2 linked regions of the Homo sapiens genome follow. The protein of the gene in region 1 purifies or fractionates together with the protein of each later gene. This does not show direct contact. Each region holds a gene or a part of one and is shown on either strand. Other genes may lie near its edges.

Region 1 (10,500 bases):
GGGCACAGTGGCGTATGCCTGTAATCCCAGCACTTTGGGAGGCCAAGTCAGACAGATCACTTGAGGGTCAGGAGTTCAAGACCAGCCTGGCCAACATGGCGAAACCTCATCTCTACTAAAATACAAAAAAAGAGAGAGCTGGGCATGGTGTCACACACCTGTAATTCCAGCTATTTGGGAGGCTGAGGCAGGAGGATTGCTTGAACCCAAGAGGCAGAGGTCACAGTGAGCCAAGATCACATCGCTGCACTCCAGCCTGGGTGGCCGAGTGAGACTCAGCCTCAAAAAAAATGAAAGGAAAAGAAAAATAGTTCAAAGTTAGTAGTAACCAGAGAAATGCAAATAAAATAAAAATTAGATTTGCATTGTATACCGTTTCAGATTGGCAAAAATGTGTCTATACATATATATATCTTTTAAATTTTATGAAAGTAATACATGTTGTATATAGATGTGCAAGGATCTGTTATTTATAGTGACCTTCCCATCCTCTGTGTCAGTATTTACATCTCTGGGCTGTCGTTGTGTTTGGCTCTTGCATGGGTACTTTCTTTTTTTTTACTTTTTGATGCTTCCAGGCTGTAGCTTGGAAAACTAGATAACTTAGGTTATGTAGTGCCTTTTTGGAGCAGCATTAATTCATAGTCTTTAGGCTTATAGACTTTTCTTGAGTTTTTTCTTTTTCTTTTTTTAATCTTTTGATCAACTCCCAAGTGCTTGGAAGACTTTGAAAACATATTGCTTTTTTTTTCCCCCTGTGACAGAGTCTCACTCTGTCACCTAGGCTGGAGGACAGTGGCACGATCTTGGCTCACTGCAACCTCTTCCCCCAGGCTCAAGTGATCCTCTCACCTCAGCCTCCCAAGTAGCTGGGACCACAGACATACACCACCCCGCCCAGCTAAGTTTTTGTATTTTTGGTAGAGATGGGGTTTTTCTGTGTTGCCCAGGCAGGTCTTGAACTCCTGAGCTTAAGCAATCCACCCACTTCAGCCTCCCAAAGTGCTGGGATTATAGGTGTGAGCCACTGTGCCTGGCTGAAAACATATTTCTACCCATTAGAGGACTTTTTTAGCATATTGATGCAATACTGATTATATTCTAATATCTATAGTCATTAATAACTGATACTCAGCCAAAGAAAGTATTGTTCTAGGCAATGTGACAGTTTTTGTATGTCATTGCCTATTTTTAAAAATAAAGTTACATTCCTAGAATAGTGTTTAGTATTATCCAGAATGGTGTTATTATTACCCTATTTATGAATAAGAGTCATAGATTTCTAATAGAATCTCAGAGAAAACCAATGTAATCTTATTTTGGTTTCAGTTAGTGTATTTAACCTGAGGGCATGATGTGGAATTTTAGAAGTAAGAAAATTGGCCGGGCGCGGTGGCTCACACCTGTAATCCCAGCACTTTGGGAGGCTGAGGAGAGCGGATCACCTGAGGTCAGGAGTTCAAGACCAGCCTGGCCAACATGGTGAAACCCCATCTCTACTAAAAATACAAAATTAGCCGGGTGTGGTGGCACATGCCTGTAATCCTAGCTACTCGGGAGGCTGAGGCAGGGCAATTGCTTGAACCTGGGAGGTAGAGTTTGCAGTGAGCTGAGATTATGTCGTTGCACAAAATACAAAAATTATGGCATAGCACGTGCCGTAATCCCCACTACTGAGGAAGCTGAGGCAGCAGAATCACTTGCGCCCAGGAGGCAGAGGCTGCAGTGAACTGAGAGCTTGCCACTGCACTCCAGCCTGGGCGACAGAGCAAGACTCTGTCTCAAAAAAAAATAAAAATAAAAAAATACATTTAAACTCTGTCAGTCAAAATTCATCTTGATATATTTTGTTAGTTGTACCTTTGTTGTTGTTTTTATGTTCTAGAACCTAGGAAGTTAGTACACCTTCCATTTCTCACCCATTCCCCAATGCCCTGCCACATCTCCCCCTCCCAGAAATTATTTTTTCTTTTGGGGTTTGTTTCTGCTCTGTTTTCATTCTCTCTGTTTGTATTTTCCATTTTGGGTCCCTTTTAATCAATATGCCTTCCTGGTATCATAAATAATGTAAGACAAAGCTTATTGGAAAGATTTAAAATAGTATATTTAAGTATGAAAATTAAATATTTTTCTTGCTCTGCTCAGTCTTTTATATTTGCCACTGGACTTGCAAAATTGGGAGAGTCACATCAATCATATTAAATATTCGTAACACTTAATTCACTGCAATTTGCATTTTTAGATGTAATTTATATAATTAATATATAATCATTTAACTTCAGTGAATGATTTTTTTTCTTATATATGGTCTATCCATTTTTACTGATAGACGGAATCAGCAGGAATTCAGCGTGCACAGATTCAGAAAGAACTTTGGCGAATTCAGGATGTCATGGAAGGGCTGAGTAAACATAAGCAGCAAAGAGGTACTACAGAAATAGGTAAATTAGCTTTGCATTTTATTTTGTGACTGACCACAGTATTACAGTCATGTGTCGCTTGGTGACAGATTACATTCTGAGAAATGCATTGTTAGGTGATTGTGTTGTACAATCAGAGTGTACTTAAACAAATCTAGTTGTATGGCCTACTACACACCTAGGCTATGTGGTATATAGCTTATTGCTCCCAGGTTGCAAACCTGCACAGCATGTGACTGTACTGAATACTGTAGACAGTTGTAACACAATGTTATTTGTATATCTAAACATAGAAAAGGTAATGTGTTACACTCTGACATGAGGGCAACAACTAGGCAATAGATATTTCTCAGCTCTGGCTGGGCACAGTGGCTCACACCTGTAATCCCAGCATTTTGGGAGGCTGAGGTGGGCAGATCACCTGAGGTCAGGAGTTCAAGACCAGCTTGGCCAACGTGGTGAAACCCTGTCTCTACTAAAAATACAAAAAAAGCCAGGCATGGTGGCGCATGCCTGTAGTCCCAAATACTCAGGAAGCTTAGACAGGAGAATCGCTTGAACCCGGGAGGTGGAGGTTGCAGTGAGCCAAGATCATGCCAGTGTGCTCCAGCATGGGCAGCAGAGGGAAACTGTCCCAAAAAAAAAAAAAAAAATTTTCTCAGCTGCATTATAATCTTATGGGACCACTGTCGTATATGTAGTCTGTTGCTGACCAAAACATTGGTATGTGGCACATGACTGAATGTCTAAATGGAATGACATATATAATTGAGTTTCTTTTGTTATTTTAATGCATTTTTCTGAACAGGCACTCTTAACATTGAATCAGAGCACAGGTTTATAAAGTAAAAAGTGAAAGCTCTGTCAACCATACCTAAACAAAAATAATTATTGTCTTGTGTGTATAATTATAAATATCCACAATGTTTACACTTTAGAAGTTTTATCCCCACAACAAGAACTGGGATCATCCTATATCTATTTTTCAATAATTTGCTTTTTTCTCCATAACAATGCAGTGTAAGAATCCATTGTATAAGGGAACTGTAATATATTTATCCATTTCCATATTGATGGATAATGTATGTTGTTTCCAGAGTTTTTTATGAATGCTGTCATAAGCCATGCCATAGTGAACATTATTAATACATACAACTAAACACATATGTTAGTACTTAATGGATTTTAAAAGGTGAGAAATAAGCACATGTTTTCCATTTGGATAACTGCGGCCAAAATGCCCTCCTGAAGGATTATTTCACATTATGTTAATACCAGTAATGTTTGAGAAAACCCATTTCCCCATACTCTTGTTTAAATATTTGTTGCCTTTTTAATGTAATTGCTTTCCAATTCTGAAAACAATAAGTGAATGATTAGAAACTGAAGACTTCATTTAAAATATGTGAAATCGGCCAGGCGTGGTTGCTCACGCCTGTAATCCCAGCACTTTGGGAGGCCGAGGCAGGCGGATCACTTGAGGTCAGGAGTTCAAGACCAACCTGGCCAACATGACAAAACCCCGGCTCTACTGAAAAAAAAAAAAAAAAGTACAAAAATTGGCCAGGTGTGGTGGTACGCACCTGTGGTCCCAGCTACTTGGAAGTCTGAGGCAAGAGAATCTCTTGAACCCGGGAGGCAGAGATCACGCCACTGCACTCCAACCTGGGCAACAGAGTGAAAAACAATAAAGAAATAAAAATAAGCCGGGCGCAGTGGCTCATGCCTGTAATCCGAGCACTTTGGGAGGCCAAGGCGGGCAGATCACCTGAGGTCAGGAGTTCGAGACCAGGCTGGCCAACTTGTTGAGACCCCATCTCTACTAAAAATACAAAAATTAGCCATGCATGGTGGCGTGCACCTATAGTCCCAGCTGCTCGGGAGGCTGAGGCAGAAGAATTGCTTGAACCTGGGACGCAGAGGTTGCAGTGAGCCGAGATCTTGCCACTGCACTCCAGCCTGGGCGACAGAGCGAAACTCTGTCTCAAAAAAAAATAAAAATAAAAAATAAAAATAAATAAAAATAAAAATAAATTTAAAAAAAAATACATGAAATTGTTCTTTTTTTGGCTGGACGCCATGGCTCACGCCTGTAATCCCAGCACTTTGGGAGGCCGAGGCAGGTGGATCACTTGAGGTTAGGAGTTCAAGACCAGCCTGACCAACACGGTGAAACCCCATCTCTACTAAAAATAAAAAAAATCAGTTGGGCGTGGTGGCGCACGCCTGTAGTCCCAGCTACGAGAGGCTGAGGCACAAGAATTGCTTGAACCCAGGAGGCGGAGGTTGCAGTGAGCTGAGATCACGCCACTACACTCCAGCTTGGGCAAACAGCAAGACTTCATTTCAAAAAAACAAAAGAAATTGTTCTTTTTTTATAGTATTAGAAAGATATGTTTAATATAGTTACGTTTTCTAATATTCCCAGGTATGATAGGATCAAAGCCTTTCTCAACAGTTAAGTACAAAAATGAGGTAAGTTTGGATTGTTTTTCTAATTATAAATTACTTTTAATGCTTAAGAGATGAATTAGAAGTAATTGTCTTCTCTAATCTTAATAACAAAAATATTTTTTAAATATATTGAACAGATATTGTTTTAGTCTTGAAATTTTATTGGATCAGTAATTTGGTGCTTCTAATATGTGATTTTTCTTCCCTTTTTTAATGCAAAAAAATGGAATCTCTGCTTTTTATCTGTTAGAATTTTAACGTTGTCATACTTTTTCTAATCTAAGTAATGTTTGAATACTTATCATTGTTTCTTATACTATGTAAAATTTATAGGATGATCGATAGATAAGTTGGTTGTATGTCATGCGTAGCATAAAGAAATTACAACTACAAAGAGATACTGTCAACCTAACCAAAAGAATCTATTATTTTGAATTTCGTATAAAAACCAAAGAGGTAACTTTTTTTTTTCCTCTCTTAAAAATTGGGGGGCCAGGTGCAGTGGCTCATGCCTGTAATCCCAGCACTTTAGGAGGCCAAGGCAGGAGGATGTCTTGAGCCCAGGAGTTTGAGACCAGCCTGGTAAACATAGCAAGACCCCCATCTCTAGAAAACATTGAAAAATTAGACGGGCATGGTGTGCCTGTGGTCCCAGCTACTCGGGAGGCTGAGCCAGGAGGATCCCTTGAGCCCAGGAGTTCAAAGGTGCAGTGAGCTATGTATGATCAAATCACTGCACTATAGCGAGACCCCATCTCTACCAAATAAATAAATAAGATAAATTGTGAAAATATAAGAATAGGATTTTAAAATCAGTTCTTTCCTTCTAGTTTTAAAATGAAACCCAGTAATTAGTTTTAAATAGTAATCTCTTTCAATGTTGAGTTTCAGTGTGAAGCTAACCTATATGTTACAGGAAAGAATCAGATGTAATTATATGTTAAATTCCAATTATTGGCTATGATAAAAAATTTTTGATTTTACTTTTCATTATTAGACTTTTGGCTTGGCAGTGTCCCTTTTAGTATCTTAAAGTAAATTTAAGTTAATATACCATTGCAAAGAATTTAGATATGCTTAATTCAATCTGCTTATCTAAATAAGGTGACTGTTCTACAATCTTTAGGAAGAGGAAGTAGTCCCACCTCGTCCTCCACTTCCTCGGTCCTATGACTTTACAGAGCAGCCTCCCATAATCCCCCCTCTGCCCAGTGATAGCAGCTCCTTGCTCTGTTATAGCAGGGGCCCAGTTCATCTGCCTGAAGAAAAGAAGATGTATCAAGTTCAAGGATATCCAAGAAATGGATCTCACTGTGTAAGTGGCTGGAATAGCCACAGAATAATCAATCCTACATGTCCTCTCATTTTTGAAAATTAATTTATTTTACACTCAAACTTTTTTTTTATTATAACCTTTATAACCTCATTTTTGGCCAGCAGTTTTTAGTTTATATATGACTTTATCATTTGTGTCTTTCCTGTTTTGGTTTTGCTATTCTCATTTTTAATATTTTTATAATTTTAATATTTTATAATTTCATAGCATTTTTCATATTTTCATAAAGTGGTAACTTTTCCCATGATGAAGCAGCCGTATTTTAGATATACCATTTTAGGGTATTGGAGGCAAGATTATACCTTCAGATCAGAAAGAAGGGAGAAAGAAAAAGACCGTTACTAGGGATGGTAAAGGGGCTGGGATGTGGACATTTTGGTCTAGGAAAACTACTCAAAGATGTGGATGTTGCTAAGGAGAGATGTCACCCCTGAAAATGGGAAATACGTTTAGGGTTAAGCAAATAATGTAGGATATAATAAGCAAAGAGAAAAAGGAAATTAGAATTGAGCTAATTTGAGAACAACAAAATGTCTGTGACAGGAATTTTAGTGCTGGGATGGGCCTCACTTAGACTACCTTGTGAATGAAAATTTATTGAATTAATATAGTTATTTTTAGCCCTCAATTATTCCATCATAAAAATGTGACTTTGTTCCTAAGAGGAACAGAAATATTCTTTTTTTTTTTTTTTTTTTTGAGACAGGGTCTCACTCTTTCCCAGGCTGGAGTGCAGTAGAGCAATCTCAGCTCACTGCAAGCTCCGCCTCCCAGGTTCAAGTGATTCTCCTGCCTCAGCCTTCTGAATGGCTGGGATTATAGGCGCACACCACCATGCCCAGCTAATTTTTGTATTTTTAGTAGAGACAGGGTTTCACCATGTTGGCTGGGCTGGTCTCAAACTCCTGGCCTCAGGTGATACACCCACCTTGGCCTCCCAAAGTGCTGAGATTACAGGTGTGAGCCACTGCACCCGGCCAGAAATATTCTTAATATTAAAACGAAGTTTTGCCACTTAAAAATTTCTCAAATTTCTTCTTTCCACGTAATTGTGACATAGGTATTATTTGTGTTATATCCCAGATGGCTCACTAGGGCTACTAATGTTTAGAGTTTGATTTGTGTCTTTAGCAGTAAACATTTTAAAAGAAACTTTTAGCAGTTTTTTAGGGTAATTACATGTCTTCCTTTCAAGGGTCCAGATTATAGACTCTACAAGAGTGAACCAGAGTTAACAACAGTGGCAGAAGTTGATGAATCTAATGGAGAAGAAAAATCAGAACCTGTTTCAGAGATAGAAACTTCAGTTGTTAAAGGTCAGCATTTGTAATATGTTTTACCTCTTGGTTTTTGTTTTTGAAGACAATTTACTGCCAAAATAGTAGTAAATTCCATTTACATGTTGACTCATATATGAGTCCAACCCTTTATCTGAAACCTTTGGACTCTGATGAGTTTCTAAATTAAGAAATTTTCAGATATTAAAAGATAAAATGGCCCATAAATGATATATGTCATCTCAGCTAGGTATGAGGCAGCACCCTTTTTTTAACACTATTTCTACAATATTCATTCCAAGTGGCATAAATAAATGCTAAAAATAAAAGACATTAGCTGGGCATGGTGGCACGTGCCTGAATCCCAGTTACCCGGGAGGCTGAGGCAGGAGAATCACTGGAACCCAGGAGGTGCAGGCTGCAGTGAGCCGAGATCGCACCACTGCACTCCAGCCTGGGCAACAGAGCAAGACTTCGTCTCATAAATAAAAATAAAAGACATCACATCAGATTAGGTTTTACTAAGAAATAAGTTTATGTCAAACTTTAAAGTTTCCCATTTCCTGGGAGAGTTTTCTTTTTTTTTTTTTCTGTTTCTGGTGGTTGTTTTTGTTGTTGTTGTTGTTGTTGTTGTTGTTGTTTGTGATGTGTTGTTGTGTGTGAGGTCTCACTCTGTCACCTGAGCTGCTGTACTGGAGCAAACATGGCTCACTGTAGCCTCGACCTCCCAGACTCGGTGATCCTCTCACTTCAGCCTTCCAAGTAGCTGGGACTACAGGCACACACCACCATACCCAACTAATTTTTTAAGTATTTGTAGAGACAAGGTCTTGCCGTGTTGCCTAAGCTGGTCTTGAACTCTGGGGATCAAGCATTCCTTCCACCTCAGCCTCCCAAGGTGTTGGGATTACAAGCATGTGCCACCACACCTGGACAGGGTCTTTTCTGTGTGTGTGTTTAAAATTATGCATAAGGTATTAATGGCTGAAACAAATTTTCACACAATATCAACAAAGTAAATTCTAAAATAATATTTCTGTAATGTATACTCTGATTTTTTTCTTAATGCTGGTCATTTTTCTAGAAGGCAATTGCGTAAAGAAAAGAGTAGAGAGAGAACTATCCTAGATTAAAAAGATAGATAGGCCAGGGGTGGTGGCTAACGCCTGTAATCCCAGCACTTCAGGAGGCCGAGGTGGGCGGATCACCTGAGGTCAGGAGATCAACAACAACAGCAACAACAACAACAACCAGAAACAGAAAAAAAAAAAAAACTCTCCCAAGAAATGGAAACTCTACCAGCCTGGCCAATATGGTGAAACCCCATCTCTACTAAAAATACAAAAGTTTGGCTGGGCACGGTGGCTCACTCCTGTAATCCCAGCACTTTGGGAGGTGGAGGCGGGCAGATCGCAAGGTCAGGAGGTGGAGACCATCCTGGCTAACATGGTGAAACCCTGTCTCTACTAAAAATACAAAAAATTAGCCATGCATGGTAGCACACACCTGTAGTCCCAGCTACTCAGGAGACTGAGACAGGAGAATCACTTGAACCCAGGAGTCAGAGGTTGCAGTGAGCCAAGATCGTGCCACTGCACTCCAGTCTGGGTGACAGAGTGAGACTCCGTCACACACAAAAAAATAACAGATAGATATATCGCACTGTTTGAAACTTGATTGGACCATGGTTTAAAAGAAGAATCTCTAAAGTAGCACAATTAATGGAAATTTAAACATGTTCTAGATATTAGCTAACAGTGTGATTGTGATATTGTGGTTGTGTAGTAGAATGTAGTATGTGAATTCTGAAACACTTAGGACAAAAGCATCTGCCACTTTTAAAGGATTCGCCAGAAAGAATGTGTATGTATTTATGCAGAGATAATGTAAGTGTGACAAAATGTAAAACTTTTTAGAAAAATAAGTGCTTATCATAACCCACTGGACTGATTTTTGTAATCTGCTAAAGGATCACTAAGTAAAGTTTGAAAAACATCAAAGTGAGGCCAGGCTTGGTGGCTCACGCCTATCTATAATCCCAGCATTTTGGAAGGCAGAGGCGGGCGGATCACAAGGTCAGGAGTTCAAGACCAGCCTGGCCAACATGGCGAAGCCCCATCTCTACTAAAAATACAAAAATTAGCCAGGTGTGGTGGCGGGCACCTGTAATTCCAGCTACTCGGGAGGCAGAGGCAGGAGAATCACTTGAACTGGGAGGCAGAGGTTACAGTGAGCCAAGATCGTGCCACTGCACTCCAGCCTAGACAGTGACTCCATCTCAAAAAAAAACACAAAAGCAAACAAACAAGAAAACACCTAAGTGGTAGTAATGTTCACATAGCTTTTTTCATTGTTGGAATATTTTTCTAGGTTATCTAATGTCGTTTTTTAAATTTAAAAATACTGGCATCTTGAAAATTTAATATTTATACACCTTTTCTTTCTCATCCTAATCCTGTCTCCTTATTCAAAGTCTTTTTTTTTTTTTTTTTTTTTGAGACAGGATCTCACCATCGGCCCAGGCTGGAGTACAGTGGTGAGATCATGGCTCACTGTAGCCTCCTTCCTCCTCTGCCTGCCAAGTAGCTGAGACTACACACGTGTGCCACCACACCTGGCTAATTTTTGTATTTATTGTAGAGACAGGGTTTCACCATGTTGCCCAGGCTTGTCTCAAACTTCTAGGCTCAAGCAATCTGCCTGCCTCAGCCTCCCAGAGTGTTGGGATTACAGGCGTGAGCCACCACACCTGGCCACAACAAAGACTTTAAATGGGCTGGGAATGATGGCTCATTCCTGTAATCTCAGCACTTTGGGAGGCCGAAGCAGATGGATTGCTTGAGTCCAGGAGTTCAAGACCAGCCTGGGCAACATAACCAGACCTCATCTCTATTTTATAAAGTAAAAAATGTATTTAGCTTTTTTTTAAGCATATACAACAACTATTTGACAAAAATAGCATATAAATGAGGAGGAAGTTTATTGATATTAATACGCTTTAACATCTTTGTTT
Region 2 (10,500 bases), on another chromosome or scaffold:
TAGGTATTCATAAATGATGGTCACCTAAGGGCCTAAATAAAAATACATCAACTTCATTTTCCCTTAAATATGTATGCCAAGTAATACAACTGTAATTCATAAGAATATACAATTGAGCATATTAATTTGAAGAACTAATGATTTCCCTAAACTTCAAAGCAATAGAGAAAAATGTATCAATTTTTCCTAAGCATTGTGTAATTTGTAACCACCCTCTTCAGCCACCAGATGGGATTCATTTGTTAAGATAAACAAATGAAAATACTTAAATACTTACCTAATAAACACTAAAATTTGCTGACATTCTCTTATTCTTTTACTTTCTTAATGAACTTGCTTTCACTTTACTCTAAGGACTCACCCTGAATTCTTTCTTGTGAGAGATCCAAGAACTCTTTTTTGGGGGTCTGGATGAGGACCCCTTTCCAGTAACATCTTCCTGGGAAACCATGAAATGAGATAGTGGAGAGACCCCCAACCCAAAGGAAATAGACTGCAGCACCAATTAGCTGACTTTGGAGTCAAGAACACTTTTCTTTCGAGATTTTGCAGCTTTTAACAACTGAGTAAAGTATACTCTTATAAACAAAATTTGGAGCATATTTCTTTCTCTCTATCTGATTTCTCCAGAATTTGGAAACTATTTGTGAGTATTCTTAACTTACAGCAATATGTAACTACAATAAGAATCTGTTTTCTTTTGTAACAGGACACAATTGGAGAAACTGGTTATTTTACCAAGACTTTGACTGGAATAGCATGCTTTCAGATATGGACTTGTTTAAGGAATCAAATTTGACTCATAGAGCTGATAAAAGCCCCTGGGAAAAACTGGCCACATATCTTGTCTACACGGTCCCTGTACAAGGTTTCTGACCTGTCTGGGGTAAGTAAAGAAAGTCACTTTCTGACAGGCCCAAAAGCCCCAAGTTATCATGAAACCTCAAAAGGAAAGAAACTTACCCAACTCATACAGGTATTTGCAGGCAATGATAAACCCATGGCAAGGCTCAAGGCTTTAAGAAGTCTCATTTGAGATTCTTTATGGATCAAAGTTCTATCAAAGTCAATTTAAAAAGAGCCTATATAGGAACTAATTATTCTTGCTGCACTTTATACAAATAATCAGGCCAAGTATAATAAGACTAAAGCTTATTTTGCAAACAAATCAGTCCTACCATGATTTCTTTAGTAAAAATGAAAGACTGAAAATAGGAAAATTGTTTCAAAAACTATGGTATGCTTTTTATTAGATTTGTCTCATCAGTAGTTTTTGAGTTCTTTCTGCAATTTGGACTCATCCTGCTTATCCTTGTGGACCAAGCAGTGATCTGTGGCTGCTGTTCAGAAGAAACAAGAGGCATGGGTAACACAGAAATCTGGATCAGTATTCTAATTGTGGGCATGTATTGGAATTGGCTAGCACATCAGCTTGGTTCCAACTCCATATCAGCTTGGTTACAACAATTTCCCAGTTCATGAAAAGCCTTCTTATTTAGTTTACTTGGGATAATTTTACTTATTTTGCCTTGTTATTGTAGAATATACTGCTGTTGTTCTCTTTGTGTAGGAATGCAAGATAAGCTTACTCAGTGCTTTCTTAAATCGAACACTTATTAATTTTTCAGTCATCACTTTTTGTCAGAAATCAGAGTTCTCACCATACTGACAGTTTCTAACTGAGCTCTCCTCTACTCTGAATGCAGAAGACCCTAATAGGCAGAAATACCATCATCCCTATTCAGACTGCAGAAGTTACAGAAGATGAATCTTCCTCCCTCTGAAACCCTTAGGATTAAGAGTACCCTTGTAAAAGGGAAGGGGAAAACATGTCAGAGGTGTTCAAACCAGAGTTGAATGGGGACTGAGTAAAATAAGGCTGAGACCTGCTGGGCTGCATTCCCAGGAGGTTAGGCATTCTTAGTCACAGCGTAACAAGGAAGGTCAGCACAAGGTAAAGGTCACAAAGATCCCGCTGACAAAACAGGACGGAGTAAAGAAGCCAGCCAAAACTGAAACCAAGATGGCAACAAAAGTGACCTCTGGTCGTCCTCACTGCTCATTATACGCTAATTATAATGCATTATCATGCTAAAAGACACTCTCACCAGCCCCATGATAGTTTACAAATGACATCTAATGTCTGGAAGTTACCCTATATGGTCTAAAAAGGGGAGGAACATTCAGTTCTGGGAATTGCCTGCTCCTTTCTGAAACACTCATGAATAATCCACCCCTTATTTAGTATATAATCAAGAAATAACTGTAAGTATACTCAGTCAAGCAGCCCTCAGGGCTGCTCTGGCTATGGAGTAGCCATTCTTTTATTCCTTTACTTTCTTAATAAACTTGGATTCACTTAAAAAAAAAAACTATATAATCTCATCTTTTACAGACATATTACTTCTAAGTTGTTTTTCTCTATAGTAATTAGGGTATTACACAATAAAGAGATGTCAAAAAAGGATAAAAGAATCAGGACAGCATATTTAAAAATAACTATAACAACTACAGAATTTAACTCTTAATAAGATATGTGAATTTACCTGTTTTTTAAAAAATTACAAAGAAGGTACATATTTGCTCTATAACTTTCCATACAAGTAATACATTTAAAATATGTAGAACAAGGCCAGGCACAGTGGCTCACGCCTGGAATCCCAGCACTTTGGAAGGCTGAGGCGGGTGAATCACTTGAGATCAGGAGTTTGAAAACAGTCTGGCCAACATGGTGAAACCCCGTCTCTACTAAAAATACAAAAATTGGCCAGGTGTGGTGGTGCACACCTGTAGTCCCAGCTACTCAGGAGGCTGAGGTGGGAGAATTGCTTGAACCCAGGAGGCAGGTGTTGCAGTGACCCGAGATCACGCCACTGCACTCTAGCCTGGGTGACAGTGCAAGACTCTGTCTCAAAATCTCAAAAACAAAACAAAACAAAAAATATATAATAATAAATAAAACAAAATATAAAACAAGAATATGCTCTGTTATTTCACCTCTCCATCATCTTACTGCTGCCTAGTGAACCAACCCTCTGGTTAAGACAGCTATGCGAAGAATAGAGTTACGTCTAGTTATTTCCTACATGAAGACCTCAATAAAATACAGTAGAGAGGACATGCCCTGTGAGATTTTGAAACTTATTATGAACATACTTCACCTCAAGTTGTATGAGAATAGACATATGTCTTAAGGAAATGAGAGAACTGAAAAACAGATCCAAGTATATACACACACATAAAGCAAGATAAAATGGGCTATCAGATTCACTGACAAAGAATGATTTACGTAATAAATTGTCAGAACATAATTACCTACCCACTGAGAAGAAAATAAATCCTTAAATCTCATACCACATACAAAAAAGTAAACTCCACAAGGATTAAAGATCTAAAGTGGAATATAAGCCCCAAGGGGGCAGCAATTCACACAACTACTCTTCGTTAATAGAAGTAACACTGTCATAAACTCAGCAAGAAAAAGGGACATAAACATAAAACCTAACCATGTAGAAAATTAGTGAAGCTAGGAGAACATCATACAGGTCTTCACTGTACTACTCTTTTTTTAAAGGTTTTGTAACTTACTGATACAAAAACTTGAGGAAAAATAACTTGTAAAAAAGATTACACTTTTAAACAGTTTAAATATTTTTCTTTCTTTTGAAATCTTTTTATTGCCATTGTGTTGAATGATTTAACTATATGTGAGGAAATCCAAATATGTCCTCAATTGTCTTCCTTCGTCACTTTACATGAGTATATTGCTCTGAAATGTCAGACACTTGGTGAAAGCACAGAAAGATCGTGATCAATGCAAACGCAAAGACTGGAAAATGTAATAGCATCATCCTCCATACAATTATTACCCAGTGAGTTAAATTTTGCGTAATAATGTGGTGGTTCTGGAAAAGAGCAATCTTTAGTATTGTGTACAGTAACAAAACGGAAGTTATGCTGTTACACTTGGATCACTTATCATTTCACAATTCTTCTGGAATTCCTTATTGACAAAAATATGTACATAATATGTAAACAAGGGTCTACAAGTCACCTCAATTCAAATATATAAGATGATAAATTCAAAACAATGCTTCCTAAAAAAAAATTACTTTACCAAATTAGTCTTGCCTCATACAAAACCATCCCCAAAGAAATTATGCAAAAAACAATTTCCATGCTATTTCATAATTAAAATTACAAATCCACAAAACACTTTTTTTAAAAATTTGTTTATTTATTTATTGAGACAGAGTCTTGCTCTGTTGCGCAGGTTGGAGTACAATGGTGAGCTATCAGCTCACTGCAACCCCCACCTCCTGGGTTCAAGTGATTCTCCTGCCTCAGCCTCCCGAGTAGCTGGGATTACAGGCATGCATCACCACACCTGGCTAATTTTTGTATCTTCAGTAGAGATGGGGTTTCACCATGTTGGTCGGGCTGATCTTGAACTCCACCCATCTCGGCCTCCCAAAGTGCTGGGATTACAGGCGTGACCCACCGTGCCCAGCCAAAACACTCTTAAAACATAAAAGTCTGCACTTAATCATTACTACAAGGAAAATATAAACCTGAGATTACTGATATAAACAGCACTTACCAGACATGCCAAACCTTTCATAAATTCAGATTTTTAAAAAAAAAATACATCTGGGATTCTTTAAACTATATCTGTAAACTTTAGAAGACATTTTAGATATTTTTCAGCTTATTGTGACTATTTTTCTTAACCGAACTCAACAGTGATAAACAAATAGTTTATGTATCTTTGATTTTTCTGCAATTAAATGAAATAATAATCTAAGCTAGTATATTCCAACCACTTTTGTGCTTCTACACCATTCTCTGTCATCAACATTTCTCAATGAGTACAGTGATTTTGAACTAAGAGTCCTATCACTTTCCCAATTAAAAAAAAAAAAATCACCGGTCTACACTATTCTTCATTGCTTCTCAGGCTCTGAGAATGTAAGCATTAGTAAAACCAAACTACTTCTTTGTAAGTTTCACATATTAGATATTAAACTATACCACTTGTGCAATAACTGTCCTGCTTTACTACCTCACTTCCCAAAATGTGGTATTTATGACCAATGTACTCTCCCTTGCTATAGAATACAAAACACTGAATCATTAGAGATAGACCATCAGGGAGCTCACATTAATAATCCTGTCTAACATCATTATATACTACAGTCTCAGAAGCTAGGTATAAGCAATAAATAATACATCAGGATATCTCAGTTACATGACAATTCACACTTGTCTGCTAAATGTTTACAACAGATAAAGGCTATCAGAAACATTTACCAAATTAGCTGTGAAAATAAAAGTACACTAAATCTTAATCAGATGATACAGACATGGGTAAAATATGCAGGGAAAAAACTTGATGACTAAAAAAAAATAGCTTTTCAATCTAAAAATATAAAATCACAATTAATTTTCAAACTGCCACCTGTAAAAGCAAAGCATTATTAATTATACACTACCTGTAACACACAGCAAAATGGGCATATGCAGCTACAATCCAGTTGTGATGGCCAGCTACTATTAGCACCTTTCGTGGATCCACAGGAAATCCTGTTGATTTTGGAAAAAGAAATATTTTACATTCTAAACCGGGGGTTGGCAAATTACAGCCACCAGGCCAGTTTCAGCCTTCTGCCTGTTTTGGTTAATAGTTTTGTTAAGAGCCGGGCACAGTGGCTCACACCTGTAATCCCAGCACTTTGGGAGGCCGAGGCGGGCGGATCATGAGGTCAGGGGATCGAGACCATACTGGCTAACACGGTGAAACCTCATCTCTATTAAAAATACAAAAAATTAGTCTGGCATGGTGGCGGCCGCCTGTAGTCCCAGCTACTCCGGAGGCTGAGGCAGGAGAATGGCGTAAACCCAGGAGGCAGAGCTTGCAGTGAGCCAAGATGGCACCACTGCACTCCAGCCTGAGCGACAGAGCGAGACTCCGTCTCAAAAAAAAAAAAAAAAATAGTTTTGTTAGAACCCAGCCATGCTTACTTGTTACATATTGTCCATTATGTGTTCATGCTACAATGGCAAAGTTGAGTAGGTCTGACAGAGAACACGTGGCCCACAAAGCCTAAAATATTTAATCTCTGGCTCTTACCAGATAAATTTTGGCAACCCTGTTCTAAAGATTCAGAGAAGATAGAAGATTACACAACATTTTAAATAAAAATTAAGTGTTAAATGAGACCTTTCCAAGATATAAATGATAAATCTGGATAAAAAAGGAGATGAGGCAAAAATCTTTAAAAGTAATTACTCAATATCACCCAGCACTAAAAACATACGTATTTTTCTTTTTCTATTTCTGTAATCTTTGCTTACCTAGCCTAACAGTTTCTTCTCCCGTTCCAGAGAGAACAGGCTGTGTACCATTTCCCCGGGCTTCACCTTCTGTAGAATTTAGACCATTCCTAGAATCAGCAGATCTGACTGTGTTGTTTATTTTACGACTAGGAATACCTATAAAGAGAAGAAGAAAACAAATACATTCCTAAGTTCACCTTTCAAAAATTAAAAATATCACATTGTGACAAAGAAACAAAAATGTGAATTTCATTAAAGCCGAAATACATCTTCCAATATAGCAAATTATTACAAATAATTTAATTACAATTAAAAAATAAAATGAAAATGAAAAAAACAAAGACAAAGACAAAATTCTGTCAACAGATTTCTGGTATTGTCATACTGTTTACAATAAATAAGCTTTAGGTTACTGAATTAATGGGTAATTAATTCAGTCTGCCAGCCACTCTTTACAATTATGGTACAGGTATTATGTGTTAGGTACTATGTAATAATTTAACTGCTTTAGAACTGAAATTCCCCATACTTTCAAACATTTTTTATTTGACAGGGGAACATTTTTTAAAATGAAATCTTGCTCAGAAGTCCATTATAACACAGGTAAAATCAGGCTCTTCTAACTAAAGTGGGGCTGAGGTGACACTGACTTATCTCTGCAGAATTCCTTAAATTTTGCAAAAAAGCAGTTTGACAACCAGTGCTCTAACATATGGGTCAGCAAACTATGGGCCATGGAAAATCCAGCCCAATCAATGCTATTTATGTAAATAAAGTTGTAGTGGTTACAGTTAAACCTAGTCTTCATGTAGTATACACAGCGGAGTTAAGTGGCTGTCACAGAGATCCTCTGGCTCACAAAATCTATCTGGCTCTTTACAGAAAAAGTTTGCCAAACCCCTGCTCCAATATATAATGTGACTTAATTTCTATAAAAATCAAAAGTTCTTACCATTTCTAATAGATTTATAGACAAAAAACTCAATAATCAAGGAGCAGTTTTTCCTATTCATATGCTTGTACTTGCTTAATGATACAAGGAATTTTTTAAAAGATTTAATAAAGTGAAAATACCTGGTGGGGGCAAGTAACCATGAAAAAGGACACTGCCACAAGAGGAACGCTCCAATTCTTCACATAAGAGAAGCCTTCTTACTAAAAACATTTCAAAGCAAACTTGTCAAGAGTACATGCAAACAGAAAAACAGTACTCCATTTTTATTTTCTCTAGTTCAAGAGGATAAGGAAAGAAAAGGAAAATTTTAATTAAGTCAGAGTTGACAACATCTTTTTACTATGAAAATCCACAAAAACTAAGCACTGAACAAGTCCATCAAAAATTAGGACCTGATATAAACACATTTCATTTAGGGCAACTTTCATACATGAGTCAAATCATAAACACCAAATATTAAAAGAGCACATACCTAATGGAGTGATCCCGTAAAATTCTGCTTCATGCCTGAGAACATTAATACTCACTCCCCTACAAAGAAACAAATGATGTAAATTCTCTAACACTGGAAACCTGTATTATCATCTGACATGAAAGGAAAAAATTCTAGGTTCTTCATGTATATAGTCATAAGGCTTTAAAAATTATTTTCCTCCTAATACTCTTTATTTCTATTATCCTTAATCATTAAAAAGTGTAAATAAAAACTGCATGTGAACAAAAATATTCTGTTATCTACTTAAAAACCATTCATATATATACATATATATGAATTGGGTCACTAAAGGAGAGATTAGGGCTCTATCAGGCTAGTACAAATAAATTGTCTAGAAGGCAAACGATAGAATGGAAACCATTCTTTTATGGCATTAGTTGCTTTTAACTTTTTATCGCAATTATTTCTATACATATCTATCTTAATCTCCCCAATTACACTATAAATTCCCTGCGAGCATGATCTATTTCTGATCTATGTTTGTATACCTCACAGTGCCTAGCATAGTGCTTGTATAAAATAGTTATGTAATAAATATTTGTTGAACAAATAAAATAGAAAAAAAAAAAAGACTAGCCTTGGGAAGGGCTATGTTATCCAGATGAAATGATGCTACTTCATAGTAGTAAAGTTAAGTAACATGAAATAAAATTTTTAAAAAATGGAAGATTCAGAACTTATAATACTAATAATTCATCTTAGGTTTCAGTTGTAATTTGTCCTTATTTTAAAAATATTCCCCAGCCTTGATAAATATATACAATTACTATGTTAAATTGTTTTTATTTGTGAAACTGGTTATGACTAGTTTAACATTAAAAATGCTTAAAACTTTGTGTCTGGGGGCGGTGGCTCACACCTGTAATCCCAGCACTTTGGGAGGCCAAGGCGGGTGGATTACGAGGTGAGGAGATGGAGACCATCATGACTAAAACGGTGAAACCCCATCTCTACTAAAAATACAAAAAAATTAGCCGGGTGTGGTGGCGGGTGCCTGTAGTCCCAGCTACTTGGGAGGCTAAGGCAGGAGAATGGCGTGAACCCGGGAGGTGGAGATTGCAGTGAGTCTGGGTGACAGAGTAAGACTCAGTCTCAAAAAAAAAAAGCTTCAAACTTTCTTATTCTATTTCGAAACTATTTGTGTTAACAGTACAGCAGTACTGGCCAGAGGCATGATCATAACTCACTGCAGCCTCAAACTCCCGGCCTCAAGGGATCCTCCTGCCTCAGCTTCTTCTCTAGAGTAGCTGGGATTATAGGCGTGTACCACCACATCCAGTTTCAGTGTGAGGAAACTTTTAATCAAAGTCTTAGTAAAAAAAAAAAAACCTTTTCTGGCTGGGCGTAGTGGCTCATTCCTGTAATCCCTGCACTTTGGGAGGCTAAGGCGGGGAGACTGCCTGAGCTCAGGCGTTTGCAATCAGCCTGGGCAACACAGTGAAACCCCTTCTCTACTAAAATACAAAAAATCAGCCGGGCATGGTGGCATGTGCCTACAGTCCCAGCTACTCGGGAGGCTGAGGCAGGAGAATTGTTTGAACCTGAAAGGCGGAGGTTGCAGTGAGCAGAGATCATGCCACTGCACTCCTGCACTCCAGCCTGGGCAACAGAGCAAGACTGCAACTCAAGGAAAAAAAAAAACAAACAAAAAAAACCTTTTATTTCATAAAACATATTAAAAACACATATTTATCAGTAAGAATTTACTTTAAAAAGAGTGCATTTCTTACCTTAAGTCTAGTTCTTTTGTCCGAAGAAAATTTAAAATGGGTGCAAATGCTGCTGGATCTCTATCAATAAATATCTGTAAAAAAGAGAACAGTTTTATTTTCAAATTACAAATTAATCTTTTAACTTTAATATCTGTAACACTAATAGGGAATGAAGTCTTAATTACTTAAATACTACATTTCCTTGTTTCCACTCTTAAACTTTAATGTTTCTAAAATTGGAATGTAGTCTGTGTGCATTTCATGAGATGGTGTCTTTTTCTTGAGATGGTGTCTTTTTCTTCCTCTGAATAGTTATTATTAAACTGATATTTTAATACATAGAAAAAATCTTGTCTAATAAAATCACTTGTATTGATACCTTTGGTAAAAGTGACACCTGAGGAAACATTTTTATCTGAAACAGTCTAGAATTCAATTAATACTTCGAAAACATGAATAAATAATACTTTCTTATACTGTTCAATCATTAAAACTACAATGTACTTTAATAATGCACACAGGGGTACTTGAGAAAAGTAAATACTGCACACTGCTGTCAAAAGTGGAAAAGAATACTATTCTCATAATACTTTTACTAATCTCAATTTCCTTCAGAGCTGGGGAAAGGTAATGACAATTTTTTTTTTTTAAACTAAAGCACCACAGAATACATAAGAGGAAAACAAATTGCTTAAAAATGTAAAATACATAATTGGTAACTTTTGTTTGTTTGTTTGTTTTGAGACAGCATCCTGCTCTCTCATCTAGGCTGGAGTGCAGTGGCACGATCTGGGCTCACTGCAACCTCCACCTCCTAAGTTCAAGCAATTCTCCTGCCTCAGCCTCCTGAGTAGCTGGGATTAGAGGCACCTGCCACTATGCCGGGTTAATTTTTCTGTTTTTAGTAGAGAGGGGGTTTCACCATGTTGGCCATGCTGGTCTTGAACTTCTGACCTCAGGTAATCCACTTGCCTCGACCTCCTAAAGTGCTGGAATTACAG

What was found.
Region 2: the proteins of PLEKHA5 (region 1) and KCTD3 purify together in Homo sapiens (affinity purification with mass spectrometry; 2 studies listed by BioGRID). This does not show direct contact.

What each region holds. Positions count from the first base shown.
Region 1 is NC_000012.12:19,340,994-19,351,493, forward strand, and holds part of PLEKHA5 (pleckstrin homology domain-containing family A member 5), read left to right. Parts: intron 1-2,329; coding exon 2,330-2,441; intron 2,442-4,848; coding exon 4,849-4,895; intron 4,896-6,000; coding exon 6,001-6,189; intron 6,190-7,405; coding exon 7,406-7,526; intron 7,527-10,500.
Region 2 is NC_000001.11:215,574,992-215,585,491, reverse strand, and holds part of KCTD3 (BTB/POZ domain-containing protein KCTD3), read right to left. Parts: intron 9,592-10,500; coding exon 9,518-9,591; intron 7,823-9,517; coding exon 7,764-7,822; intron 7,564-7,763; exon of another isoform or gene 7,502-7,563; coding exon of another isoform or gene 7,492-7,501; coding exon 7,411-7,491; intron 6,493-7,410; coding exon 6,355-6,492; intron 5,584-6,354; coding exon 5,493-5,583; intron 1-5,492. UniProt on the Homo sapiens protein: Accessory subunit of potassium/sodium hyperpolarization-activated cyclic nucleotide-gated channel 3 (HCN3) up-regulating its cell-surface expression and current density without affecting its voltage dependence and kinetics.